Homo sapiens: one gene and its partners. The protein of the gene in region 3 interacts with the protein of the main gene of each other region in a pairwise test. Each region holds a gene or a part of one and is shown on either strand. Other genes may lie near its edges.

Region 1 (8,831 bases), on a different chromosome or scaffold from region 3:
CTGGGAGGCGGAGGATGCAATGAGCTGAAATCGCGCCACTCCCTTCCAGCCTGGGTAACCAAGCAAGACTCTGTCTCAAAAAGAAAAAAATTAAAATTAAAATATATTTTGATGCAAAAAAGTCTTTAAAATTGAAGATAAATTGGAATTCAATATACACTCCCTAAGGAATACAACTTACTTTTCTTACTAATTAGGCTATAGAAATGCTCAGGTTTCACTAACATAGTATCCGTTATTGAAAAATCCAAAATCTGAAACCGTTTGAGCACTGACATGATGATCAAAGGAAATGCTCACTGGAGCATCTCAGATTTCACATTTTCAGATTAAGAATACTCAACTGCTAAGTATAACGCAAATATTTCAGAATTCAAAAAAATTCAAAATCTAAATTATCTCCGATCCCAGGCATTTCAATTAAGAAATACTCAACCTGCAGTAGTTTTTAAAGTAGTTACCTTTATATTTTTAAAATGTCTTATATATGGAATCCGAAAAATAATAGAATGATTCTATGTGAAGTGGAGCCCTGTCTGGACTGCTGCTCCCACGTCCTTTGCAATGATCCAAGAGGCCTCTGTGATACCCTAAAGCTCTCAAAGAAAAAGTGAAGTGGGCCAGCTGCAGTGGCTCATGCCTGTAATCTCAGCACGTTGGGAGGCTGAGGCAGGTAGATCACCTGAGGTCAGGAGTTTGAGACCAGCCTGACCAACATGGTGAAACCCTGCCTCTAATAAAAATACAAAAATTAGCCAGGCATGGTGGCAGGTGCCTGTAATGCCAGCTACTCAGAAGGCTGAGGCAGGAGAATCACTTCTTGAGCCTGGGAGGCAGAGGTTGCAGTGAGCTGAGACAGCACCACTGCGCTCCAGCCTGGGCAACAGAGCGAGACTCCATATCAAAAAAAAAAAAAAAAAAAAAAAAAAGGCCAGATGTGGTGGCTCACGCTTGTAATCCCAGCACTCTGGGAGGCCAAGGCAGGCGGATCATGAGGTCAGGAGATCGAGACCATCCTGGCTAACACAGTGAAACACCGTCTCCACTAAAAATACAAAAAATAAGCCAGGTGTGGTAGCGGGTGCTTGTAATCCCAGCGACTCAGGAGGCTGAGGCAGGAGAATGGTGTGAACCCGGGAGGTGGAGCTTGCAGTCAGCTGAGATCGCACCACTGTACTCCAGCCTGGGTGACGGGGCGAGACTCTGTCTCAAAAAAAAAAAAAAAAAAAAAAAAAAAAAGAAAAAAGAAAAAAGAAAAAGTCAAGTGAGTAACCGCTATAAAGGCTACATAATACACAGAAACAAAGTGAAAGTTATGAAACTTATCCTATTTCACATGTATGACATAAAATATTAAGAGAAGGCTTCCACTCCTGTGCTCAGAGTAACGCTTATTAGATCTGAAAATAAACAAATGAGGTAAGTTTCGACACTGACCTTTTTAACTTCTCGCTTGGCTATGACTGGTCCACTTTTACTACTGGAAACAGAAATCGTTTTCTCCTTAGAATATATGTCTGTATTTACCACAAAACTAGTTTCAGCACCTGGCACAGAACTAAAAAAATATATACTTAGCAAGAGAAATATAAGACAAATACTATCAGCAAAAGATAAGGCTTCAATTTCCTTCTAGGCAATTTCACTTTTAAATTTATTCTTACCTGGGCTGGTAATGCTGTAATCCCTGTACCTGTGTGGCAAGATATTGGGGTAACTCCCAAGTCACTTCATTTGTTTGTGTATTCCAATAATAATAACATCCCGTGTTCTCATCCCAGACTTCCTGCCAATCGCCCATCTCAATTCCGACTAGAAGATAAAACAAATTTTAAGCACAAATCCCTCTACAATTCTGGCTTACATATAAGCTCAAAAGCCAAAATCACCTAACAGTTTCTCAAAACAGCACTGTTAACTTTTGGGCACACAGGTCTTTGTTGTGGAGGGGCAATCCTATGTGGAGGTTTTAGCAGCACCCCTGGCCTCTGCCCACTAGATACAGTAGCACTCCCATCCACCCTGCCTCCTACATTGTGACAATAAAAAATATTTGACAGACATTGTCAAATATCCCCTAGGGGCACCCCCCAACACTGGTTGAGAACCACTGGCCTAACACCAAGAATTATTTTCTCAATATCTAACATTTAGAGTCACCTTTGAACACATTTTTTAAAAAAAAACAGTTTGGCCGGCTACAGTGGCTCATGCCTGTAATCCCAGCATTTGGGAGGCCAAGGTGGGCAGATCACCTAAGGTCGGGAGTTTGAGACCAGCCTGATCAACATGCAGAAACCCTGTCTCTACTAAAAATACAAAAATTGGGCGTGGTGGTGCGTGCCTGTAATCCCAGCTACTCGGGAGGCTGAGGCAGGAGAATTGCTTGAACTCGGGAGGCAAAGGCTGCGATGAGCCAAGATTGCACCATTGCACTCCAGCCTGGGCAACATGAGCAAAACTCCACCTCTAAATTAGTAAATAGAAAAAAGCAGTTTGCTGGTCCAAAAATGTACCTAAAATACTTTGAATATCATGGCTTTTCTTATTCAACTGGCAAGGACAAGCAATTACTTTTTAAAAGATAAAAATTACATCCTACTAGTTTTCTGAGCCGACTATCCTACCTACCATCTTCAACATGCTTTATTTAAAAAGACAGAGGTTGGGCGCGGTGGCTCAAACCTGTAATCACAGCACCTTGGGAGGCCGAGGCAGGTGGATCCCCCGAGGTCAGGAGTTCGAGACCAGCTTTGCCAACATCGTGAAACCCCATCTCTACTAAAAATACAAAAAATTTGCTGGGCGTGGTGGTGGGTGCCTGTAATCCCAGCTGCTCAGGAGACTGAGGCAGAAGAATTGGTTGAACCTGGGAGGCGGAGGTTGCAGTGAGCCGAGATCGCATCACTGCACTCCAGCCTGGGCAACAAGGGTGAAACTCAGTCTCAAAAAAAAAAAAAAACAATTAAATAAATAAAAATAAAAAGACAGAATCCTAAAGTCTAAGGTTAAAGTCTCTGGGCTTTCATCTTTAGAAAACTGAATGCCAGCCGGGAGCGATGGCTCACACCTGTAATCCTAGCACTGTGGGAGGCCAAGGCAGGCTGATTTCCTAAGCTCAGGAGTTCGAGACCAGCCTTGGGCAACACAGTGAAACCACGTCTCTACTAAAATACAAAAGAGAAATTAGCCAGGCATGGCAGTGTGCGCCTGTAGTCCCAGTTACTCAGGAGGCTGAGGGAGGAGAACTGTCTGAACCCAGGAGGTGGAGGTTGGAGCGAGCCAAGATCGCGCCAGTGCACTCCAGCCTGGGCGACAGAGCGAGATTCCATCTCAAAACAAACAAACAAACAAACAAACAAAAAACCAGAAAAGTGAATGCCTAGAATCCCTTTAAGGATTTTACTTTTCTTTAAAAATCAAAGGATCAAGTTTACCTCCTGCCAGTGAACACTGAGTATCATATTGCCAACCAGATGTTTGGGTGGAGTCTGTTCCATTTGAAGTAGAAGAAGAAAGGGTAGATGTTGCTGCTTCCTTTGGCTCTGGTCGAGGTGGAGTTGGAGGTGGAGCAGAAGCTCCTACAGGAGCTGCAGGCTGAGGAGCTGTTATGGCATCGATCTCCTTCAGTATGAAAAGAGTAACAAATGCAGTAATTATATCAAAAACAAGAAACTTAAGGAAATGGCAATCACTTTTTAAAAATTCTACATGAGCCGGGCACAGTGGCTCACACCTACAGTTCCAGCACTTTGGGAGGCTGAGACAGGTGGATCACTTGAGGTCAGGAATTCGAGACCAGGCTGGCCAACATGGTGAAATCTCCCTCTACTAAAAATAAAAAAAATTAGGCTGGGCACGGTGGCTCACGCCTGTAATCCCAGCATTCTGGGCGGCCAAGGCGGGCGGATCACCTGAGGTCAGAAGTTCAAAACCAGCCTGGCCAATATGGTGAAAACTTGTCTCTACTAAAAATACAAAAATTAGCTGGATGTGGTGGTGGGCACCTGTAATCTCAGCTACTTGGGAGGCTGAGGCACTAGAATTGCTTGAATCTGGGAGGCGGGGATTGCAGTGAGCCGAGATCACGCTACTGCATTCCAACCTGGGTGAAAGAGCAAGACTCTGTCTCAAAAAAAACAAAAAACAAAAAAAAAAGAATACAATTATTATCGGGCGTGGTGGCACATGCCTGTAATCCCAGCTACTCAAGAGGCTGAGGTGGGAGAATTACTTGAACCTGGGTGGCAGAGGTTGCAGTGGGCCAACATCACGCCACCACATTTCAGCCTGGGTGACAGTAAGACCCAGTCTCGAGGGAGAAAAAAAAAATTCTAGATACTCATTCTAAGCTTCTCAAATCAAAACCCTCATCTTCCAATTATACAAGCTCCCCAGTCTCTTCTAATTTGCCTTTCTTCTCTTTGAAAGCTTTACAAAAAGAAAAGGGAGGTGGTGGCTCACGCTTGTAATCCCAACACTTTGGAAGGCCGAGGTGGGTTGATCACCTGAGGTCAGGAGTTTGAGACCAGCCTGGCCAACATGGTGAAACCCCGTCTCTACCAAAAATACAAAAATCAGCTGGGTGTGGTGGCACATACCTGTAGCCCCAGCTACTCGGGTGCACATACCTGTAGCCTCAGCTACTTGAACCCAGGAGACAGGTTGCGGTGAGGCGAGATCGTACCGCTGCACTCGAGACTGGGCAACAGAGTGAGATTCTATCTCAAGAAAAAAAAAAAAAAGGAGAGACAGCCAGGTGTGATGGCTCACACCTATAATCCCAGCACTTTGGAAGGCCGAGGTGGGAGGATCGCTTCAGCCCAAGAGTTCAAGACCAGCCTGAGCAACACAGTGAGACCCCATCTCTTAAAGTTAAACAAAACAAAACAAAAAGAGAGATAGAGATCGGGAGAAATACAAGAGAGTGTTGGAGGGAGAGGGAGAAAGGAGGAGGAAGACATTGAACTGACAAGTACGCTGACCACTTAAGATCCAGGTCCCAAAGTAGCTTCAGTAACTAAAACTCCAAACGAAAGCACCACTAACCGCTAGGAAGTTGGCCAATGTACTATCAATATCAGTTGACTGGTTTCCATTTGTCTCTTTGGATTGTGCTAGTTTTTCGGAAACATCATTGTCATCGTCATCACTGTCAGCATAAGCACCAAGCAAGCATAGACCGCCTAGAAACAAAAAGGTAAACAGTATTTGTAACAACAATGTCAATATGTCCTAAGAAGCATCTAAAGCGGAAGTATAACATGTTTTTTTTAAACTTACTTACAGATTAGAACATAACCGCAAAACTAATAATCACTGAACTACCACAGAAGAATAAATTACATCGTATGGTTAAAGCTAATAAAAATTGATCTATAGGCCTGGTGCAGTGGCTCAACGCCTGTAATCCCAGCACTTTGGGAGGCCGAGGTGGGTGGATCATGAGGTCAGGCGTTTTGAGACCAGCCTGGGCAACATGGTGAAACCCCATCTCTATTAAAAATACAAAAAATTAGCCAGGCCTGGTAGCACGTGCCTGTAGTCCCAGCTAGTGAGGCAGGAGAAGTGCTTGAACCTGGGAGGCAGAGGTTGCAGTGAGCCAAGATCACGCCACTGCACTCCACCCTGGGCAAAAGAGTAAGACTCTGTCTCCGGGGGTTAAAAAAAAAAAAAAAAAATTGATCTGGGCTGGGCATGGTGGCTCACACCTGTAATCCCAGCACTTTGGGAGGCTGAGGCGGGCAGATCACCTGAAGTCAGGAGTTCAAGACCAGCCTGACCAACATGGAGAAACCCTGTCTCTACTAAAAATACAAAATTATCCAGGTGTGGTGGCACATGCCTGTAATCCCAGCTACTCAGGAGGCTGAAGCAGAAAAATTGCTTGAACTCGGGAGGCGGAGGTTGCGGTGAGCTGAGATCACGCCACTGCACTCCAGCCTGGGCAACAACAGTGAAAATCCGTCTCAAAATAAATAAATAAATAAAATAAAAAATAAAAAAACATGTTGATCTATGAGCCAGGCAACACAGCTTATGTCTACAGACCCAACTTCTTCGGGAGGATCTGAGGCAGGAAGATCATTTGAGCCCAGAATCTGAGACCAGCCTCGAAAACATAGTGAGACCTTGTCTATCCCATAAAAACAAAAACAAAAAAAAAAAAAAGGGAAAAGGAAAAAGAATAAAAATTTAGCCGAGCATACGGCTGAGGTGCAAGGATAGCTTGAGCCCAGGAGGTTGAGGCTGCATTAAGCCGAAACATCTCCACTGTACTCCAGCCAGGGTGACAAAGTGAGACTGACCATGTCTCCAAAAAAAAAACAAAAACAAAAAAAATCGAGAACAAGAAAATTAATCTGCATAGTTATTTCAATCAATTATTCAATCTCACTCTCTTTCCAAATTGTTCATAGATAGTATATCTTGATTTTAGAATTTGGTGATTAAAGTGTTTACTTCAAACTGAGCCAATTACAGTGTAGCAGCTGAAACAAAGACTTTCAAAAACTAAAGAAATAAAGACTTTCAAAGTTAAAAACGAAGCTTTTAATCAATGATTATTCCTCAAATAGGAAGTGACAGAAATTAAAAACATGAAGTGACAGGAATTAAAAATGGGGCTCAACATGGCTAAAACCAATGATCAATGTCTTCCTCAAATTTAAGTGGTATCAGGTATGGCCTCTGTAATGCTGCTATGCCATTTCCTTTTGGATCATCTGTGGCTACTCCAAGATTACAATTAACAATATAATACATAGAGTATTATTATATGTATTATAAACACATAAAATGTTAAATTCTAGCTAGACTTTTCCAGCTATTACTTATATTAAATTTCACAGCGCTGACACATTCTACGCTCACTAAAAAGTTGGTAAATGAACAGATTTATCGAAAGTTAAATCTAGTTTTGTGTGTCATACATCCCATACATAAACTCAAAGGTCACCTAAAAGTAAACATAAATTGTTCCATTAATCATGTAGGAGTTCATATTCAGTGCCTTAGTATCGTAATTCCTGCCTTCATTTTTTTCTTTCTGTATGTAGGTTAAGTTTTTTGTTGTTGTTGTTATACTTTAAGTTCTAAGGTACATGTGCACAATGGTGCAGGTTTATTACATATGTATACATGTACTATGTTGGTGTGCTGCACCCATTAACTCATCATTAACATTAGGTATTTCTCTTAATGCTATCCCTCCCCCACCCCCGACCCCATGACAGGCCCCGGTGTGTGATGTTCCCCACCCTGTGTCCAAATGTTCTCATTGTTCAATTCCTACCTATGAGTGAGAATATGTGGTGTTTGGTTTTCTGTCCTTGCGATAGTTTGCTCAGAATGATGGTTTCCAGCTTCATCCATGTCCCTACAAAGGACATGAACTCATCCTTTTTTATGGCTGCATAGTATTCTATGGTGTATATGTGCCACATTTTCTTAATCCAGTCTATCATTGATGGACATTCGGGTTGGTTCCAAGTCTTTGCTATTGTGAATAGTGCTGCAGTAAACATAACGTGTGCATGTGTCTTTATAGCAGCATGATTTATAATCCTTTGGGTATATACCCAGTAATGGGATCGCTGGGTCAAATGGTATTTCTAGTTCTAGATCCTTGAGGAATCACCACACTGTCTTCCACAATGGTTGAACTAGTTTACACTCCCACTAACAGCATAAAAGCGTTCCTATTTCTCCACATCCTTTCCAGCATATGTAGGTAAGTTCTTAAATAGCAATTTTATTTTGAGATGGAGTCTCGCTCTGTCCCCCAGGCTGGAGTGCAGTGGCTCCGCTCACTACAAGCTCTGCCTCTCAGGTTCACGCCATTCTCCTGCCTCAGCCTCCTGAGTAGCTGGGACTACAGGCGCCCGCCACGCCCGGCTAATTTTTTTGTATTTTTAGTAGAGATGGGGTTTCACCGTGTTAGCCAGGATGGTCTTGATCTCCTGACCTCGTGACCCGCCCACCTCGGCCTCCCAAAGTGCTGGGATTATAGGCGTGAGCCACCGCACCCGGCTGAGACGGAGTCTTGCTCTGTTGCCCAGGCTGAAGTGCAGTGGCGCAATCTTGGCTCATTGCAACCTCCACCTCCAGGGTTCATGCGATTCTCCTGCCTCAGCCTCCCGAGTAGCTGGGATTACAGGTGTGCACCACCACACCTGGGTAATGTTTGCATTTTTAGTAGAGATGGGGTTTCGCTATGTTGGCCTAGCTGCTCTTGGACTCCTGACCTCAAGTGATCTGCCCACCTCGGCCTCCCAAAGTGCTGGGACTACAGGCATGAGCCACCACACATAGCCTCTAAACATCAATTTCTAAAGTTTGATTTGTTTATGTATATATGTAAGAGATACGGTCTTGCTCTATTGCCAAGGCAGAAGCAGTGGATCACTACATCCTCAAACTCCTGGCCTCAAATGATTCTCTTGCCTCAGCATCCTGAGTGGATGACTAGAGTCACAACCCACCATGCCTGGCTAATTTATTTTATTTTTTATTTTATGCAGAGATGGAATCTCCTATGTTGCCTAGGCTGGTCTCATCCTGTCCTCATGTGATCTTCCTGCCTTGACTTCCCAAAATGTTAGGCAAAATTTTTCATTTCTTTTTTTTGAGACAGGGTCTCACTCTGGCACAAGTGAACTGGTGCGATCACAGCTCACTGCAGCCTTGACCTCCTGAGCTCAACCAATCTTCCCACCTCAATCAGGCTCCTGTGTAGCTGGGACTAGAGATGCGCACCACTGCGCCTGGCTAACTTTGGTAGAGACGGGGTTTTGCCATGTTGCCTAGGCTCATCTCGAACTCCTGGTCAC
Region 2 (7,000 bases), on a different chromosome or scaffold from region 3:
ATGTAATTTACTAAGTGGTAGATGGAAAAATACATTAAGGTCAAACAGATTTTGGAACTGATGGAAAGCATTCTTATTACCTTTCCCAGTTGTAGAGATTAATATTGATCTGGATTGCTTGATAAACAAGGCCAGCCTGAAGAAGTACTATTTCAGCCTCCTGTATGTTCCCACTAAACAGTAGTATGTGGGCCATTTTTGATTCTTTAGATGGAAGATTTTTTATAGAATTGATGTACTGAACCTTATCAATCTAAAAAAGAAAAGAAAAATATTGAAGTAGATAGTAACAGAAATATAATAAATTACGCTAAGAAAAAACACATGTACATATATGTAAACATTAATTACTTACTTCACCAATTGCTGCATAGGCTATTTCTGCAGTAGTCATATCTCGATTAGCAACTGCCATAGCAGCTAGACAAGCCCACATGGTTTGCTCCTAAAGTAAAGTATGAGAACAATTATCTTAACTATGTGACTGAACTGCCTTAAAATAAGCAGTGATTTAAATACTCATACTAAAATGATATTTTAATTTAAAAAATAAAAATTACTGAGCAGGGCATTAAAAAAAACTAATAATGTGGGAATTTCATTGTGGCCATTTTGTTAAAATATATTAATACACAGAAAACTTTTGAATGAAATTTTCAATTTTGAGTTATTAAGGATTTATTTCTGAATTTAAAATAATAACTCAAGGTTATAAACCTTCCAGTCTTTTTGACGAGGTGTCAAAAAATGTAATTTATAGGGAACCAAAGAAATAGTGAAGTTCTCAGACAATGATATTATGGTAGATTGCTACTGATATACCAGTTAAGAAGAAATTACTTAGGCAGATAGTGAGGGTACAGAAGTCCTTTACGATAAGGTTTTCCTTTTAATGAAAAGCAGCCCCCAAATCATTTTCTTTTCTAACAAAGAGCAGCCTGTAAAATAGAGCTGCAGATATAAACAAGCAAGCTGGAAGCTTGCATGAGTGAATGCCAGTAGTTGTGCCCATAGCAATATGCTACCTGGGACTGGGGATGTTCAAACAGCAGCTCCATCTTCTCTTTTTGCCAGCCATCTGTACAGTAAGGAGTATACAAGATGGCACTGGCCAGGTGGAAAGTCTATTTGCATAATAAGATTAGGGTGGGGCAACCAGCCTTCCCTGTGCTATGTAAATGTCACACCTGGTCAAACCAATCTGTGAGCACTATGTAAATCAGACACGGCCTCCTCAAGCCTGCCTATGAAATCTGCTGCAGTCCACCACTTTTCCCTTTTTGGATTCCTCTCTCTGGCAAGGAGCTGCTCTCCTCTCTCCTTTCTTCTGCCTATTACGCTTTCCACTCCTTAACCTACCCACATGTGTCCGTCCTTGATTTTCTTGGTGTGAGATGACAAACTCCGGGTATTTACCCCAGACAATGATGCTATTCACCACCAACAACCCATTGTTAAAAAAAGCATCTAAAAGTCATTTCACAAAAGTGTATTCTAAGGAATGTTCACTGATGTTCAATAAAAAAGGTCTATGGTCAAACATGTTTGAAAAATACTAGATTCAACCAAGTTGGAAAAAGGCTGATCGAAAGCAGAGATTCTTAACCTTAGCTGTACAAAACAATCATCTGAGGAAATTAAAAAATATGCCCAGGACTCAATCCAGATATAATGAATTAGAATCTCTACGGGAGTAGAACTTGGGAACCTGACTTTCAGAAAACTTCCACAGAAGATTTTTATATGTGCCAGTATGGAAAAACAGTTTAAATTTTTATAGCGTCTTCAGAGAATAAATCACACAGCAACATGTATTCCTCTGTATTGCCCATGTCTTTACTTATAAAAAAAGACATGATCTTATTCACAATTTTTCCAGCCTTTAAGCCTATTATCATTACTCATTTTGCACAAAGGTAAACTACTATGAAATATATATACAACTATGAATCTAAAATGTAAATTACCTTAACAAAGCGACAAAGTCTCACAGCATCTTCCCATTTTGAACTGCTTACATATTCATGGAGAATAGCAGGATATGGTGTTATGCTGATGTGAACCAGGGAGCCATCAGCTCTTCTAATAGTTACTTGATTTCCAACAAAACTCACAATATGGGGATTTTTACTAAATTCACTGTTGAAAAAAAAAGCAAAGTACAATTTAAAGTTGTATTCTGAGCAAAATTTTTCATGTATATTAAATTTGGGGAGTGGACCGTGAAATACACACGGAGTCTCCAATCTCCAAAAGGCACACCCCCAAAGGTTAACTCCAGGGAGAATGTATATGTTCAAAAAAAATTTCAATGTATTTATTTGAATACATATTCTCCCTGGAATTAACTTTGAATGTAAACATTTGAATATAACTTGCTATATAAAGTAGCAAAAATTATTACATATTTGAGAGCTATTCCTAAGAGCATTTGAAATCATCTTTTTTTCCGAGGCTTAAGATAAATCACAACAATAATTTATATAGCTTTAGCTTTTAAAAGTATTAAAGGGTAAAACAATAAAAAGTAAACCAAATTCCAAGACTATTTTCTCAGAATAAAAAGAGGTGAGCCAGGCACAGTGGCTCACACCTGCAGCCTTAACTACTTGGGAAGATCACTTAAGCCCAGGCTGCAGTGAGCCATGATTACACCACTGCATTCCAGCTTTGGCAACAGAGTGTGACCTTGACTCTAAAAATAAATAAGTAAAAAGAGATGACCTTTAAATAAAAAGACTAATTTTTTTTCATTAGTCCAAATACTTTTAAAAATACGCTGTTTTATTTTGATGCCTCTCTGGTTTTGTTAAGGTTTTGAATTTGAATACTAAAAACAAACTCAAAACAGATTTGAAAACTAAGCTAAGGTCTAGAATTAAGAAGCCTTTGTATTCCTATTTTGTCAAGAATAAGAGATCTCCTTGCTATTTCTTAGAGAATTTAGGAATATAAATGGTTTGATTTTCTGAAGCATATAAATTTTTAAAAATTTCAGTAACTTTGGTCTTTTCCTACTTTTAATATCAACCAAAAATTCAATTCTAGAGACATTTACATTCTTGAAAGTGTTAACGTCAATGATAATCTGTGACAGCGTTGGGTAGTTGTCACAAGGTTGTGCATCCTGAAAAATCTTAAAGAGTGCCTAGACTAAAATCACTTGATCACACTGAGAAAACTACCTGAGCTACCATTACACAATATTAAGCTTGAAAATTATATTCATATAAGGGACAAATAAATAATTCATATCATACCACACTTTCAACTTGATTCTGTCACTTAAGTCTCAAGCTAGCTTTAGCCGAACAATTTATTCATCAATAAATCTGACTGATGTGTAAAACACCTTGCAGGATTGAAAATAGAAGCCAAAACATGATACTCTATTAGAGTTTTATTTACTACAAAACAGAATTATACGCAGTAAAATGTTACCTTGCATCCCTTTCATATAATGTTTTAGGCAAAATGTCTCTGTCCACATAAACTGTATTGGGGTAATACCACACTATAAATCGAGTATCTTGAAGTCCACAAAGGATATTGCATGTATCGTTCCATGCCAAAGTATGCACCATTGTTCCTTAATTTAAAAAGAATGTTAATGTGCTATTAGCTTTAATATGTAAGAATTAAAAATAGATCTTTAAAATGCCTGACAAACAAAATCCCATACAATTTCTGGTAGATATGACTCTACTTTCTGATTCTATAATGGTGAAAAACACATACCAAACAATCACACAAGAATTTACAGAAATATTTGAATGCTTTACTTAGAACCCTTATATTTTTAATCTGTAAATCTTTCTTTCAGTGACAATTTAGCTGCAGCAGCTAAAGACTTGCTAATAAGTTAATCCTCTTGCCCTCAGGCCATCAAGCTCCAGATGATCCTCAGTGAGGAATACCGTCCCCTCAATATTCAAGAGTCACTCTTCTACAGGGGACCCCTAGTCTGCCCATCAGTGGGACATGACAGAGGTGAAGTCCTCCCTTGTCTCCCTTGGACCTAGCTGCATACTGCTTTCACCAACCCACGGAGCCACCCTGCCCTGACAGCTAGCAAGAGGCCAAGATCCACAGAATAACCACCATTGCCCCTCTGTCAGCAGGAAGCAGTTACAGAAGACTGACTTTTGTCCATTTTCCCCATAGAATTGGGGTCTTGGACTCTTGAGGGTGGAAATGTTACAGCAGGTAGTCAGGCAGACATGAGCAAGTCAGGAGAGGCCCCTGCCACCAGCACCAGGAATGTCAGGTGACCATCAGGTGATGGTCAGGCTGTTGTTAAGCTGTCTCTCTAAAATAATAATTGGTTGCAGCCAGTGCCAGGGAAAGGTAGTCTCTCAATATAAACACTGAAACTGGAAATCAGTAGCTTCTCAATAAGATCTCAAGAGCTAGGTGAGTGGGCTCACACATGACTAACAGGCAAAATGGTGGAGGAGTTTAACTGGTATACAAACTTCCTCTAGAAACACTGGAGTGGTAAGGGAAAAACGCCTCAAGTGAGCATGTGTATAACTTTAGTAAACACACTGTGCATGTGGCCCCTCCCAGGTGTTGGCAGGCCACTATGCATGTGGACAGCCCACCCAAGGGAAGAATTAGGGCAGAAGGGTTGCAACTCCCCAGAAGCATGCCAAAGTATAAAACCCCAAGTCAAAGATCAAACAGTGCACTTGATCTCTCAAGCTGCCTGCTTGCCCTCTACCAAGTTTACTTTATTTCCTTTCTTTCCTGCTCTAAAGCTTTCAAATAGGCCAGGCCCAGTGGCTTACGCCTGTAATCCCAGCACTTTAAGAGACTGAGGCAGGTGGATGGCTTGAGCTCAGGAGTTCGAGACCAGCCTGGGCAACATGGTGAAACCTTGTCTCTACCAAAAATACAAAAAAATTTAGCTGGATGTGGTGGCACATGACTGTAGTCCTAGCTACTTGGGAGGCTGAGGCAGGAGAATCACTTGAGCCCAGGAAGCGGAGGTTTTGGTGACCTTGATCTTGCCACTCCACTCCAGCATGGGTGACAGAGTGAGACCCTGTCTCAATAAAACACAATAAAAATTTAAAAATAAAGCTTTTTAATAAACTTTCACTCCTACTTTTTTAAAAAAAGGGTTAAATAGCTAAGAAGTATTACAAGATCAAAACATTAAAACATTTCCAGATTCATTCAAATTATTTATTACAGCAAATATAAGAAAGTTGACAATTAAAACTTAAAATGTATTAAAATTATTTTACCAAGCTTGATAATTTGTTCTTCCTTCCCAAATCGTTTCACAGAAGTGATACAGAGATCTCTATTTTTATCAATGAAAGCAATTTTTCTATCATTGGTAAGTCCTTTTTGATCCAGAGCAATTTCCAAGATTTCATTCTAAAATTTTTTTTAAATGTAAATACTGGGTTAGTTTTAGTGTTTGACATAAGATCATTTTAATTAATTATAAAATCATTTCCTTTAAGATCAATTAAATGTCATTTCCCCATTTATAATGATAAAATGTCCCTGTTAAATAATTTTAAACTGCCAATATGTTAATCGTTCAAAAGCTGCACTGAAGTATATTTGCCTGACATCCAAGGAAAAGATACCTCTTAAAATACAATAAAATAATATGTATTTTGATATTCTGTAGGCTGAGAAACACTCGATCTGTCCTGTCCTACCTTTCGTAGTCAAGGTGAAAGGGTCAGGCAATTCTGAGTATCATATGAGAGGTCTATTTTGATTAATAAGTTGCCTAACAACTATATCTTAAATATTTGTAAAAAAAATTTTGGAAATATGTGGAAATACATCATGTGTCCAGGGCCTTAAATTCTATAGATTCTCTCACATTCATTCTTGCAAAATAGGAAACAAGCTTGTAATGTAGGTATTACTATACTTACTTTGCAAATCAGAAGACTAGACTCATATTCACTAAGTGATTTTGCTCAGAAAAAGCCAGTGTCAAGTATATCTAAACTTGCAACTCAGACTTCTAACTCCAAGATCACTGCTTTTCATTTGCTAGTGAGATGAATTTTACTATAACTTGAAAATGTTTTAATATAGATTCATTTTAATTCAAACCAAGCAAGATTTATTTACCTCCTACAATGTCTGAAGACTTTGGTAGGAATTGTGAATTCAACCAGAATAATGACTACAACATCAAGTCATTGTATCAAAATGTACTATAAAAAACACTTTTTAAAGTAAAACAAAACACACATACACCTTTATCCAAATTGATGAATCAGTCATATACCAGTTCATAATACATTTTAAAAAGTTCAACTCTTTCTGGAATACCATAATTTATATTTTAAGAAAGAAAAGAATTTGGTTTCATATATATCAAGGCATGCATGAAATATAACTCTAGGTATTTTCAAAATGGAAATGTTTCAGAGAAACTGATCTTTACAATAAAGAATTGCTTATCATCGTCATCATCATCATCAGAACCTAGTGTATTCTTTTAAAAACACTGTTAAACAGATATGATTCTCCTAAGAAATTAAAAATCAAAGATGGATAGTAATTATAGTAATGCCTATGTACATAGGGGAAGAGGGGCTCCCCCACTTCATTCAGCAGGGCTTCCCCCATTTTCCTCTTGTCAAGTCCTACCACCTCCACATAGGTTCTATTCCTCCTGGGTTACTCTTTGTAGTGGGACATAAAAGCAGTTTTGTGTTCATTAGAACCGTCTCCCTTGCCCTACACTAATTAATATTCATTTACTAATACACAGACTTGAGTTCTAGTTTGGGCTCTGTTATTGGGAAGATCCTGGATATGAATTTCTTCCACATATAAAATAAAATAGATTGGGTGATTTTTCTATTATTTTATAGAATGTAAAATTTAAAAATCCTTTGTATTGCATACAAATGTACTGGGTAATTGGGTGAAGTGTGACATGTAGAAGACACTTCCATTCTTATAATTAGGAAATTATAAATTTCTTAATTTTAATTGTAAATTAAATTATTTT
Region 3 (4,474 bases):
CTCTCCATTCCATCTGGGAAGGGTGTGTGTGTGTACATGTGTGCGGTGTGGATGGGGGACCCACAAACACTGTGAACTCAGAGGCTGCTAAGTCGGGACTAACAATCTTCCCAATTATGATCTCTTTGAAGCTGTAAGCACACACTATGTTTACCAACATGCACTTGTTTACATGTTTTGTTTTACAAGTCCCAGGCCCCATTCTCCCTTGTGTGTTGGCTGTCCATGTTAGACTGGAGGCACTCTGAAGGCAGGGCCTGCACCTCATCCTTCAGGAGGCTCTACTCTTAGTGCCTGGTATAAGGTTGAAGACCCAGAACTCTCCTGGTCCCATTATCATGGAAATAGTGAGCAGCAGTTTGCTTGCATGCTCAGTTGAGATGTCAGATGGATACTTGAGTTATTCTCATCTATTTCTCTTACCAGAGAGAAGAAGTGTCACCCACACATGTTGGAACACCAGAACGTAAAATAGATGAAAGTACAGAGGAGGGGAGGAGGCATGACCTCCTAGGGTTAAGGGACCCCTAAGGATTAGGAGTCCTAAGATCAATTCCCTACCTCTCAGGCTTACTGTGGAATTGTGATGTTTCTGCTGCCTCTGGACTTTGTCTGCCCAGCTACTGTTCTCCCCTAGGCAGGGCCCGCCTTCTTGTCTTACCTGCACTGGATCTAAAAGCACACACTATCTGGCATCTTTCCCTTTATTTACCTTTAATCCTTTAACTGAAAATGACCAAAAAAAAGCAACCATAAAACCCCTTCTCAAGGCATGGTGAAACATTCCTTTTTAAGCAAGCCTATGCTTTTCACTACACTAAAAGGTTGATGAGGACAAGGATCATGTCTTTCTCACTTATTATGTTATCCCCCAGCACTTACCACAGTGCCAGGCCGTGCTTAATACGTTTTGTACAAGCACAAGAATGCACTTTGTATACATGAATGTACAAACACATGAAGAACATGTATTAAGCATGGAGGCAGAGGAGGATCTCATTCTTCTGAGACCTCCCTTCTCTCCTGGGAAGGGGTCCTAACTCATGGAGTACACTAGCTGCCTCCAGTTGGAGGAAAGCTGTATTCTGAGGTCTTGGGGCTAGGGGGCAGTGTTCACCTGCTGGTATAAGCCACGGTATCTCGTGTGTGTGTGTGTGTGTGTGTGTGTGTGTGTGTGTGTGTGTGTGTGTGTGTGTGTGTGTTATGTTGATGATGATGACTGGTACATTAATAAGCTCTGGCTCCAGAGAGAATTCTAAAACTCCCTCAAAACAACTTAGCTCATATTTCCATGAGTACCATTCTTAAATATGCCCTTAAAATGTTATTCTGCATATATGCTGCTGAACAATCGGGTTTATTTAAAGATTTAAGGTTTTTTTAATTCAGTAAACTTTATTTATATATAACAACAGTACAAATTGTGTCCTCAGCTTGCAAAATAGGAGTGTTTCATATTTACAATAGGTACACAATAATATATTAGAATAACAAAAAACCCCACTTTATTGGAACATTTTAAATACTTAATTTTCTTACAGTTTTTATTCCACAACACCTGTAAAAACAACAAAACCAGACAACCATCATTGTATTTTCTTAAAAATATATATAATACAGATTCCAGTGTGTCAAGAGGAGTGGGTTTGAGCAGGAAAAGTTGTGGGGAAAGGCAGGTGGGCTCCGGCCCCTAGTCTCATGGGATAGAGAGCTTGTCCCTTCTGCCCTTACACACGCAAGAATATCTGTTCTGTTTGGGGGGAGTATTTCCATTCTGCCTGCCACCTTCCATGCCAAGATGAAGGCCAAATAAGTCAAAGTGAGGACTTTGAAATGCAGAAGATGTTTCCTACCTTCCTTGAGGCCAGGGTAGGAGGGAGCAGGCTGCACTGCAGCAGAAAGAAGACAGCTCAGGCTGAAGGGAGAGCTTCTCTGCTGTGAGAAGAATGAGATGTGGGTGTCCACGAGAGGCTGAGGAATCTCCAGTTTGCTTATTGGGTGGAGGCCCTGTATGCCAAGCAGTGGCTGTGATCGTGTCTCAGGACTTTCCCTAGCACTAGTTAGAAAATACCAAGAGTGAAACTTTATCCCTCATTCATGGGGATCACTGAGCTCCAGATACTAAAACGTCACACTTCAGGGAAACTAGGGAAGAGAGACTGAGTTATGGAAAGGATGCTACCATTTTTCTCAAAGCATGTTCCTGAGACAAGGCGTCGGAAGGCCCTGAAGTTCATCTCCCAAGTTCCCCGTCGATCTGCTCCCACAGCCCTGTGTCTGTGAAGCCACTTTGCATTTTCTCACCCACTGAGCCTCCTGAGTCTCAATTCTTTTCTCTCTGTGCCCAGGCCCCAGGAGTCTCATGCAAGACACAGCGTGGCTGGGAAAAAAAGACGGCCTCTCCTGGAGCAGCTGCTGGATCAGTATTTACCAGGAGCAGGTTAATGGGGGCAGGCGTGGCAACCGGGATGCACCTGGAGATTTATCAGCCAGAAGCTTTCAAATGCTCCCTATTTGTTCTGCCCAGGCCATTCTTCGTCCAGCACTCATCCATTGCTTCTGTTTCACGCTCAGCAGGGCCAGGGGTCTTGACTGCTATTTCCTGTCCTCATTTGGTGGAACTGAAGGAAGGTCAGAAGCTCAAGCAGCAGGTGAAGTGCAGCCAGAAGAGATGGTGGCAGTAGAAACAAGAGCAGCTCTCATCGCTGGGGGAATGGCCCCAGAATAAGGTAAGGCAGCTGGGTTGGTCTGCTTTCTTCCTTTGCTGGACCACTTTTCCTACAAAACTGGTACCCTGTGCCACTAGGGGAGGAGAACTGTTGCCTGCTAAGTTGGTGGCAGGAACCAGCTTCCTGAAGGATATAAATTCGCTGGAAGAAAGACCTTGGTTTTGTTCCGTGCTGTTTTCCCATCTCTAGAGCAGTGGCTGGCAGACAGTGGCTACTCAAGAAGGTTCCCAGATGAATGAATGCAGGAAACAGTTCCCTCCTCCAATGAGATTAACAGCTGATCCATGCTTTTAATGACTGAACTCTGTAAAGAGGGGAACCCTCTGCCAATGGGGGATCAAAATGGTTTTGAGAGCCCTGCTGTGGAGAGAGGTAGGACAGCAAGCACAGAAGCACCTGACCCCATGCAGAGGACGGGAGGCAGCAGCAGGGGCCAGCTGGAGGGAGTGCTCTCCATTGCCCATTAGCATCCTCTGTCTTGCCAAGCACCCTTCTGGGGTCCTCTTCCTTTTCCAGAGCATTGTCTCTTGTGCAGATCAATGAAACGAAGCGAAGCTGGATAGACTTTGGAGAGAGACTTCCCTCTCTGCCTCCCCCAAGATGAATGGCTTCTTGTGGAGAGGAGCTGTGGCTTTAACACTTCATCCTTACCCAAGGTCAAAATATCCTCAAATTGGATAACAGGGAGAAGAGAGGCCAACCAACTCCCTCTTTTTCTCATCCAAAGGGTGTGGACTTCATTGGTTCTTGGTGGCCCAAAGCGAAGAGGTGTGGAGGAGGAACAGGTGGGCAGCTGGAAAGGGGGCAGGGCCTTATAACCTTTCACCCTCATGGCGTGGCTTGAGTCCAGCTTTTTCCCTTTTCTTAATTCCTTCCTTAAGGATGCCCCAGGCTACTTCCTTTGTCAGCCCAAGTTCCCCAAGTCTCTCATGGAATCCTGAGAAATGTGGCCAAACCACTCACAGCCAGCTCCGGCTCTTCACTCTCCACCCTCCAATTGGCCATTGCCCCATCATTCTCCACGCTCTCCACAAACCTTCAAGGAAACGCCCCAGGGGCAGTGAATCGTCTCCAAAAGTAACTGCTGGGAGATGCCAGGTAGATGCATTGAGTTAAGGGCTGGTAGAGATGCTACTGAGATGTCCGACTGCCTTTAACTTCTTGGTGGAGCAAAGCCTGGATGCCAGTCTGAGCAGCCATGCGGCCAGAAAATCTTCACCCAAACAGAGCTCAGAAGTTAGATGGGGTGGGCTGAACTTTTTTACAGGTAGCATAAGGTCTCCTGGTCACACTCTTCTTACCTATATCTCCTTTCCTTTTATCTCCATAAATTATGGGCTCTGCGCTGATAAGCTTTGAGTGCTATGAAGAGCAAACACTTTGGCTTAGTGCGGAAGGCCAGTCATTAGTATTTCCTTCAGGCTACTAATAGGGCCTGAGAAACTTTAAAGAAGTGGATTTTCAAAAGAAAGTGGCCTTGGCATGGCTGGTTGTGAATTATAATGAAAACAGCAAGTTTCCTGAGTATTTTGCTGAATGCTTTTCTCTTCCCATTTGTCAGCCGCATTCAGGCAAGAAACTAGAGCTGGGGAGACCGGGCAACGTCTGCTGTGTGGTTAGACAGCGATCCAAAGCTACACGCCAAGGATGGAAGCCAGACCTCTGCGCTCCCCTCCCCCAGCCCTCTCCTGGGAATCACATGTGGTCAGCAGGGCCTTTGGAAATTGGAACCACTTGGAGGTAAA
Region 4 (8,831 bases), about 54 Mb from region 3:
ACAGGAAAAGCCATCTTTTGTTCACACTCATTTTAGAGAATTCTGAATTCTAGGCTCCCTCAAGAACCATATAAGATTTGGGCCGGGTGTGGTGGCTCACGCCTGTAATCCCAGCACTTTTGGAGGCCAAGGTGGGCAGATCATCTCCATTCAGGAGTTCAAGACTGGCCTGAACAACATGGTGAAACCCCATGTCTACTAAAAATACAAAATTAGCTGGGCATGGTGGTGCATGCCTGTAATTCCAGCTACTAGGGAGGCTGAGGCAGGAGAATTGCTTAAACCTGGGAGGCAGAGGTTGCAGTGAGCGGAGATTGCACCATTGCACTTCAGCCTGGGCAACAAGAGCAAAACTCTGAGCCAGGCGTGGTGCCTCATGACTGTAATCCCAGTCCTTTGGGAGGCCGAGGAGGGCAGATCACCCGAGGTCAGGAGTTCAAGACCAGCCTGGCCAACATGGTGAAACCCTGTCTCTACTAAAAATACAAAAATTAGCCGGATGTGGTGGCACATTCCAGTAATCTCAGCTACTCAGGAAGCTGAGGCAGGAGAATTGCTAGAACCTGGGAGGCAGAGGTTACAGTGAGCCGAGATCACACCACTGCACTCCAGCCTGGCAACAGAGCAAAACTCCATCTAAAAAAAAAAAAAAAAAAAAAATCTGGGCTGGGCACGGTTGCTCACCCCTGTAATCCCAGCACTTTGGGAGGCCGAGGTGGGTAGATCGCTTGAGGTCATGAGTTCTAGACCAGCCTGGCCAACATGGTAAAACACCATCTCTACTAAAAAATACAAAAATTTGCTGGTTATGGTGGTGGGCACCTGTAATCCCAGCTACTCGGGAGGCTGAGGCAGGAGAATCGCTTGAACCCGGGTGGCAGAGGTTGCAGTAAGCCGAGATCGCACCACTGCATTCCAGCCTAAGCAACAGAGTGAAACTCTGTGTTTAAAAAAAAATTTTTTTTGTAGAGACAGGGACTCATTATGTTGCCCAGGCTGGTCTTGAACTCCTGGCCTCAAGCAATCCTCCTGCCTTGGCCACCCAAAGTGCTGGGATTATAAGTGTCAGCCATCACACCCAGCCCCTAAGGGGCATATTTCTACCTGTTTAGTTACAGATAACCCTAATAACAATATTTTAAAGCACTAAAAATGCTATGACTGACTACTTTCCCCCTCAGCCATGCAGAGGGGCTTGGCCTCTCCAGAGTTCTAGAAATCTCCCACAGATTAAAAAAGTAGTAAAGGTTAATAAGAGAGGTCTTATGGTTAATGTTTCCTCTACCTGGCCGTGCTGGTATACAGGCTACTTGGAGCCTGGCTTGAAGAGGCGCTCGTGGTGGGGGTGGACTCATAATCAGAAAGGACAGGCTCTGACCCAAACTGCAATGCCCCAAACTGCAGGTTTAGCCCTGAGATATCTGCTGAGCCAGGCATCTCCACAGCCAGAGCAGGAATCTATAAAGTTGAAGGAGAAGAGAAAGTAATGGCTTTAATACAACCTTACTAAAGACTAAAAAAAACCCTTCCCTTTAAATTTCCAAACTTACCCTTTTAATCTCAATTCTCAAGCCCCACACCCCTTGCCATAAAATGGTATCTACCTAAAAGTTTAAGTACCTTAGAAGTCAAGGAGGCTTTTTTCTTCTGCTGTTTCAGTTTCTGCTGAGCCGGCTGAGGGCTAGAGGACTGGTTGTCTGAAGATCCAGGCGACATCTGTGGAGCCGATGTGGATTTGCTTGGCAGAGGAGAAGACGGAGGTGGAGGTGCAGCTGTGGAGGTAGCCACTGCAGGTGACTTCTCCTGAAGGAACACCTCCATCATGGTTGAAGATGGGGTAAAAGCCTGGCGCTTTGTAAAGGGGCTGTGCACTGCTGAATCACTTGGGTTCTTCAAATCTGCAAGAGGAAACCCAGTATATGAAGCCAGAGATGCTAATGAATCTCAAGGAAATGCTATTGTCCTGCACTAGCACCATGAATGAGGACTGTAAAAATCAGAAACTCATATAAGCAGGCCCTCTTTTGGGGCTTAATCTCATTTCTATAGGTGACAATCACTGGATTACATCTTTTTTTTTTTTTTTTTTTTGAGATGGGAGTCTTGCTCTGTCACCCAGGCTGGAATGCAATGGTGCAATCTCAGCCCACTTCAACATCCGACTCCTGGGTTAAAGCAATTCTCTTGCCTCAGAGTAGCTGGGACTACAGGCGCGCGCCACCATGCCTGGCTAATTTTTGTGTTTTTAGTAGACACGGGGTTTTGTCATGTTGGCCAGGCTGGTCTCGAACTCCTGACCTCAAGTGATCCGTCCGCCTCGGCTTCTCGAAGTGCTAGGATTACAGGCATGAGCTGCCGCACCTGGCCTACAACCATCCTTAAATAAAGCCTAACTAAATCAACATTACCCTGTCTGTGTAAGACAGGAATGCACAAATTGTCCAAGTTTAAAGTACCGCAAGTTCTCATTTAACATCCATAGGTGCTTGGAAACTGGCTTTAAGCAAAAACAAGGCATGGCATATCTTGGCATAACGTTGTTTCCTTCAACATGATTTCATTATAATGTTGATGAGGAAAAAAAAATGGCCAGGTGCAATGGCTCACGCCTGCAATCCCATCACTTTGGGAGGCCAAGACCAGCAGATCGCCTGAGCCCAAGAGACACACCTGGGCAACACGGTGAAAACCCATCTCTACAAAAAATTAAAAATTAGCCAGGCATGGTGGTACAAGCCTGTGGTCCCAGCTACTCAGGAGGCTCAGGTGGGAGGACTGCTTGAGCCCAGGAAGATGAGTGAGCCAAGATAGTGCCACTGTACTCCGGTCTGGATGACAGAACTAGACCTTGTCTTATGTTTCGCATAAAGTCGCAAGAACCTATCAATGACATTAAGTGAAGACTTACTGTATAAGGTCTTAAGATGGCTAAGCCTAAGAACCTGGAGGCAATATGTTATTTTCAAACACTGAAGATAAATCTAAGGAGAATAATAATAATAATTAAAACCCCAATCAACAGAAGACTGCAACTATGTATATGGTTAAAAATTTTTCTTTTTTTTTTTTTTTTTGCGGAAAGCTAGCTTCACACTAGCTCACCCTCACTAGGGGCTGGGACCACAGGTGCACACCACCGCACTCAGCTAATTGAAAACAATTTTTTTAGAAATGGAGTCTTGATATGTTGCTCAGGCTGTTCTTGAACTCCTAAGGCTCAGGCTGTCCTCCCACTTCAACCTCCCAAAGTGCTAGGATTACAGGTGTAAGCTACCATGCCCAGCCTCTAAATGTGATGAGAAATACATAGCCTCAAATTTTATTATTCCCCAACTTCTTGAATTCAGCTTATTTGATTAGGGGAAATACATGTGGGAAGGTAACCAACTAGCTGCCCCTTTTCTTCACTTCAGGACACATTCTCCACCCCCTCCCCCTGCTAGCCTCTTGACAGTAATGCTCCAATGCTTTAAAGATTCAAGTCACTTTCCATCTTCTCACCATACTGCACCAGTGATGGGGATTGTGTCGTCGAGCCCATGTCCCAAGAGGAGGTGGTGGTGCTTCCAGACTGAGAATGCTGAGCTGCCAACTGAGCCAGGGCTTGGGCAGTCTTGAATTGCTCCAAGAACTGGGAGCCTGTAGTACTGCCGCCTTTAGCTTCACCGACATCACCAAATCCTTTCCCTAACATGCTCACCTGTAGATCAACAAAGAGATGAGAGAAACCTACAGCCAGTAACCTTGTTCAGCTACTCATAAAGACACTTATCCAGACCGAGAGCCAGTATAGATCAGGCAAGTAAAGAATACTGTCACACTGAGTATACAGCATAGTCCACTAGAGTATAGGACCTAGAGTCAGACTGTCTTAGATTGAAATCCTGGCTATGTAAGCTTGGAAAAACTATTTTTTAATCTCTCTTTCCTCATCTGGAAATAGGAATAAAAGTAAAGCTGTAGGAGGATTAAATAAATTAAAGCACTTAATACATGTATGGCACATAGTAATCACTAAAAAAACAGAGCCATTAAAACTTCATATCATCATTACTTCCTTCTCCCTGCTTCTCAGGGATAAAATTTGGCTGACTGGAGAATTTTTGTTTTTGTTTTTGTTTTTGAGACAGAGTCTCGCTCTGTCACCCAGGCTGGAGTGCAGTGGTGCTATCTCGGCTCACTGCAAGCTCCGCCTCCCAGGTTCACACCATTCTCCTGCCTCAGCCTCCCGAGTAGCTGGGACTACAGGCACCCGCCACCACACCCGGCTAATTTTTTGTATTTTTAGTAGAGACAGCGTTTCACTGTGTTAGCCAGGATGGTCTCGATCTCCTGACCTCGTGATCCACCCGCCTCGGCCTCCCAAAGTGCTGGGATTAGAGGCGTGAGCCATCACACCCAGCCGAGAATTTTTAAATCAACCAATACAATTAACATAAATGTAATATAAGATTTTACTTTTGCCATTAAGGTCCTTGCCCTTCTCATTAAAAAAACTCAAAAGAAACAACAATTAACTGGAGCCTCATCTCGATGCTGCTAATAACTAGCACAGAGGCAAAAAGGAAAAGTTAAAGGGCATCCCAACTTCTGCACTAGACAATCAAGTAGCAAGTCAGTATGATTTGATTGTTTTCTCCATGTACATACAAGTTCTATAGGGTAATCACTGGGCCGAATGCGGTGGCTCACGCCTGTAATCCCAGCACTTTGGGAGGCTGAGGCGGGCAGCTCACCTTAGGTCAGGAGTCCTAAACCAGCCTGACCAACATGGTGAAACCCTGTCTCTGCTAAAAATACAAAATTAGCCAAGCGTGGTGGCGGGCGCCTGTAACCCCAGCTACTCAGGAGGCTGAGGCAGGAGAATTGCTTGAACCCAGGAGGTGGAGGTTGCGGTGAGCCAAGATCGCGCCATTGCACTCCAGCCTAGGCAACAAGAGTGAAACTCTGTCTCAAAAAAAAATAAAAAATAAATAAAAAATAAAAACAATTAAAATTACCTAGTGTTCACTGTATTATACATAAAAATATAAAGAAACTCCCATGTTATTTAGCTCTATTAAATTTTAAGTGAAATTAATCCTCTAACATTTATTCTCAATAGAAAGGAAATTACATTATCTAACATATTGATTAGTACAGGCAACAAAAAAACAGAATAGTATTTATACTTAGTTTTCACATTTTTATTTAAAAAAAATTTTTTTTTAGAGAAAGGGTTTCATTCTGTCACCCAGGCTGGAGTACAGTGGTGAGCTCAAAGCTCACTATAGTCTTGAACTCCTAGTCTCAAGCAATCCTCCCACTTCAGCCTCCAGAGTAGCTGAGACTACAGGAACGTGTCACTGTCCCCAGCTGAAAACATCTTTTTGATATCAAAAGTCTGATTTCGTTGTAAATTTTCACAATTCCAGACATTAAGAGGGCAATTAAGAGACATAGATCACATAATCACATTTTCCAGTCATTTATCTTTAAGGGTTGGTAGTTACTTCTTGATCTTCATTACACCTTCTTACAACCTTTGTCCTATTTTCTTTCTTCTTTTTCTATTTAATCCCAACACTTCTCTCCATTTCCCTTCTCCTCCCACCTCTTCTCACCTGTTACCTTTCCTATGTGGCAGGACATCGACCACCAAATTACTAACTTAACACACACAAAAAACATTTTAAGACAACAATTAAAAACTGACCGAGTTCTGAATTAGTAGCTAGCTTGGCAGTTTTCTAGTTAAACTAATTACTCTAACTGGAAAAATAAAATTATATGCACACACATGGTCTGCTTACAACTTTAGTATCCCTCCATCAAAAAATAGGAGAGAAAAAGAGAAAAAAAGAAAAAGCAGTACTTCTCAGGACTCAATGACTATGAGAAAACTGGTACTTGTAGCATCTTTGTTTAGTTTAAATGATTCCTTTGATGTCGTTAATGACCTTGGATGTTTTAAATGCTCTGAGTCAACAAGTAATATGTCATAAGTTCTAAGTTATTTATAATATCACTACTGAAACCACACTTGTATAGCCACCTTTGGGAAGATGGGAAGGACTAGCACTTTTATCCCTATTTACATAGAAATGGAGACACAGCTAGTAAGTGGCAGAAATGGGAAGACCATAGGTTTCTGGAGGCCTTGTCTACAAATACCTGGTTTAAGTAAATATACAAGACAATTCTGATCCATCAAGAAATGGGGAACTGCTACAATCTCCCATCATAGTTTAATGAGGGCTGCAAAAGGATTAAAATGTATTGACAAGTTTATGTCATTGATTTTCTCTCAAGAGTAATGGCAAATGGTGTTCATTCAGCACAATGAGTAGTCAATAAATAATGTTAACTTATTCTTATAAGAATATTCAGTCTGTCCAGAACTAAGTCCTCTCTTAGAGCTACCCCCTATTACCCAACTCAAACATTTCTACAACCAAGTCTGCTTAAGAAGACAAAGAGGATGCTTCACCTGCCAAAAACCTGACTGTCTTTGGAAGGAACTGTGTATGTGTGCTAGGATTAGCAGGAAGGTTTGATTAGGATAAACCACGTTTCCTACTCACCATACTGTGATGAGAAAATGTGTTCCCTGAAGCAGGCTGTGATATGGCAGTCTGCTTCGAATTACTGAACACCAGAGGCTGGGCCAGAGAAGGAGCCTGAGACGGATCCAGATTAGATGAATCATTCTCCATTGTAGATGGTGTCTTCCCCAGCAGAACAGCAAGGTCAATTCTAATGGGGAAGGGAAGGGATCTTCATGAAGAATGACTGAACACGCTAACATTCCCCAACACTCAAATCAGATTAGATCAAAATGAAGCCACTTGCTGGGGCTTCTTCTAAAAGGGTTCAAACACAAAAGCCTTGAAATGCTTAAATGTCCCAAAATAACTGATGCATAAGAGTCACTACAGTATATAGCTGAATTCCACTGATGTTGCCAATAATAATGGTTAATTTTTTAAGTGAAGTTATTAATTTAATGAAATATCAAATGCTAGTTTTTGTTTGTTTGTTTGTTTCGAGAAAGTCTCGCTCTGTCACCCAGGCTGGAGTGCAGTGGTGCAATCTTGGCTCACTGCTAGCTCTGCCTCCTGGGTTCACGCCATTCTCCTGCCTCAGCCTGTAGCTGGGACTACAGGTGCCTGCCACCACGCCCGGCTAATTTTTTTTTTTTGTATTTTTAATAGAGAAGGGGTTTCACGTGTTAGCCAGGATGGTCTCAATCTCCTGACCTCATGATCCGCCCGCCTTGGCCTCCCAAAGTGCTGGGATTACAGGCGTTAGCCACCGCACCGCACCCGGCCTCAAATGCTAGTTTTAACATGGCAGCTCAATAACTCAGCCAAAACTTACAAGTACTTATCCATGATTTTAATACTGAATACCTGTCATTACCAATTCCTAAAACAGAAAATCATATACCAGAACACTGGAATCTTCAAATGGCTTTAGAACAGGGGCAGTCTGAGAGATATTTTTTCCCACAATTTTCGTAAAATTTCAAAAGTTACCTGTGGTATAATATATACTTGAGCTTTGCCTTGTTCCTGGCATGGAGCTCCTAAAACATTTAGAATTTCCTAAGTGATAGTGTCCTTTGTTACTCATAACACACTTCTTTCAACCATACCTGAATGCTAATGAGGTAGCCCAGGGTGGGGCCCCAGATAGTTTCAGGATGAGGGTTGGTCACTAGAAAGACCAGATAAGGCTGGATGCAGTGGCTCACACCTGTAACTCGGCACTTTGGGAGGCCAAAGCAGGCGGATACTTGAAGTCAGGAGTTTGAGACCAGCCTGGCCAACATGGTAAAACCCTACTAAAAATACAAAACTTAGCCTGGCGTGGTGGCGGGTGCCTACTATACCAGCTACTCGGGAGGCTGAGGCAGGAGAATCGCTTGAACCTGGGAGGCGGAGGTTGCAGTGAGCCAAGATTGTGCCACTGCCCTCCAGCCTGGGCAACAGAGTGAGACTCTGTCTCAAAAAAAGAGACCAGGTAAGAGTGTTGGAACTTTCAGAAGCCCCTCCCAATCCCACCAAATTCCAGGGGTGTAGGCGAGGTGGCTATTAAGTCCAATCACCAATGGCCAATGATTTAATCAATCATGCCTAGGTAATAAAACTCATAACAATAAGATTTGGAGAGCTTCAGGATACCTGCAGAGGACAAGGAGGTTGTGTGTGCCCCACCCACATACCCATTCATACCTTGCCCTACTCATTTCTTCCGTTTAGCTGTTGCTGAGTTGTACCTTTATAATAAACCAGTAATGGGCCAGGTGTGGTGGCTCACACCTGTAATCCCAGCACTTTGGGAGGCTGAGGTGGGTGGATCACCTGAGGTCAGGCTGGCCAACATGGTGAAACGCTGCCTCTACTAAAAATAAAAAATTAGCTGGGTATAGTGGTGCATGCCTGTAATCCCAGATACTAGGGAGGCTGAGGCAGAAGAATGGCTTGAACCCAGGAGAAGGTTGCAGTGAGCCAAGATCACGCCACTGCACTCCAGCCTGGGTGACAGAACAAGACTCCGTCTCGTCTCAAAAACAAAAACAAAAAAACAGTAACGGCAAGTAAAACTCCTGAGTTCAGTCATTCTAGTGAGTTATCAAACTTGAAAGGCGGTCATGGGAACCTCCAAATTTGTAGCTGGCTGGCAGAACCTCTGAAGTTGGGGCACTCTTGTAGAACTGAGCTTTCAACTTGTGGGGTCTGCATTAACTCTGGGTAGTTAACGTCAGAACTGAATTTTTGAGCTATCAGGCTCAGGTCTAGAAAAAATCCAAGAGGTTTCCAGCGAATTAAAAATATTCCCTGAAGAGT

The links.
Region 1: the proteins of PLXNA2 (region 3) and FNBP4 interact in a two-hybrid assay, tested with the Homo sapiens proteins (one study listed by BioGRID and IntAct).
Region 2: the proteins of PLXNA2 (region 3) and IFT80 interact in a two-hybrid assay, tested with the Homo sapiens proteins (one study listed by BioGRID).
Region 4: the proteins of PLXNA2 (region 3) and UBAP2L interact in a two-hybrid assay, tested with the Homo sapiens proteins (one study listed by BioGRID and IntAct).

Annotation. Positions count from the first base shown.
Region 1 is NC_000011.10:47,749,479-47,758,309, forward strand, and holds part of FNBP4 (formin-binding protein 4), read right to left. Parts: intron 7,514-8,831; coding exon of another isoform or gene 7,295-7,513; intron 5,187-7,294; coding exon 5,050-5,186; intron 3,625-5,049; coding exon 3,438-3,624; intron 2,920-3,437; coding exon of another isoform or gene 2,701-2,919; intron 1,813-2,700; coding exon 1,665-1,812; intron 1,559-1,664; coding exon 1,438-1,558; intron 656-1,437; exon of another isoform or gene 462-655; intron 1-461.
Region 2 is NC_000003.12:160,277,226-160,284,225, forward strand, and holds part of IFT80 (intraflagellar transport protein 80 homolog), read right to left. Parts: intron 5,389-7,000; coding exon 5,253-5,388; intron 3,590-5,252; coding exon 3,442-3,589; intron 2,140-3,441; coding exon 1,968-2,139; intron 446-1,967; coding exon 356-445; intron 254-355; coding exon 81-253; intron 1-80.
Region 3 is NC_000001.11:208,020,886-208,025,359, forward strand, and holds the end of PLXNA2 (plexin-A2 precursor), read right to left. Parts: 3' UTR 1,357-4,474; downstream 1-1,356. UniProt on the Homo sapiens protein: Coreceptor for SEMA3A and SEMA6A. Necessary for signaling by SEMA6A and class 3 semaphorins and subsequent remodeling of the cytoskeleton. Plays a role in axon guidance, invasive growth and cell migration.
Region 4 is NC_000001.11:154,244,108-154,252,938, reverse strand, and holds part of UBAP2L (ubiquitin-associated protein 2-like), read right to left. Parts: intron 6,736-8,831; coding exon 6,564-6,735; intron 3,701-6,563; coding exon 3,502-3,700; intron 1,899-3,501; coding exon 1,621-1,898; intron 1,459-1,620; coding exon 1,286-1,458; intron 1-1,285. UniProt on the Homo sapiens protein: Recruits the ubiquitination machinery to RNA polymerase II for polyubiquitination, removal and degradation, when the transcription-coupled nucleotide excision repair (TC-NER) machinery fails to resolve DNA damage.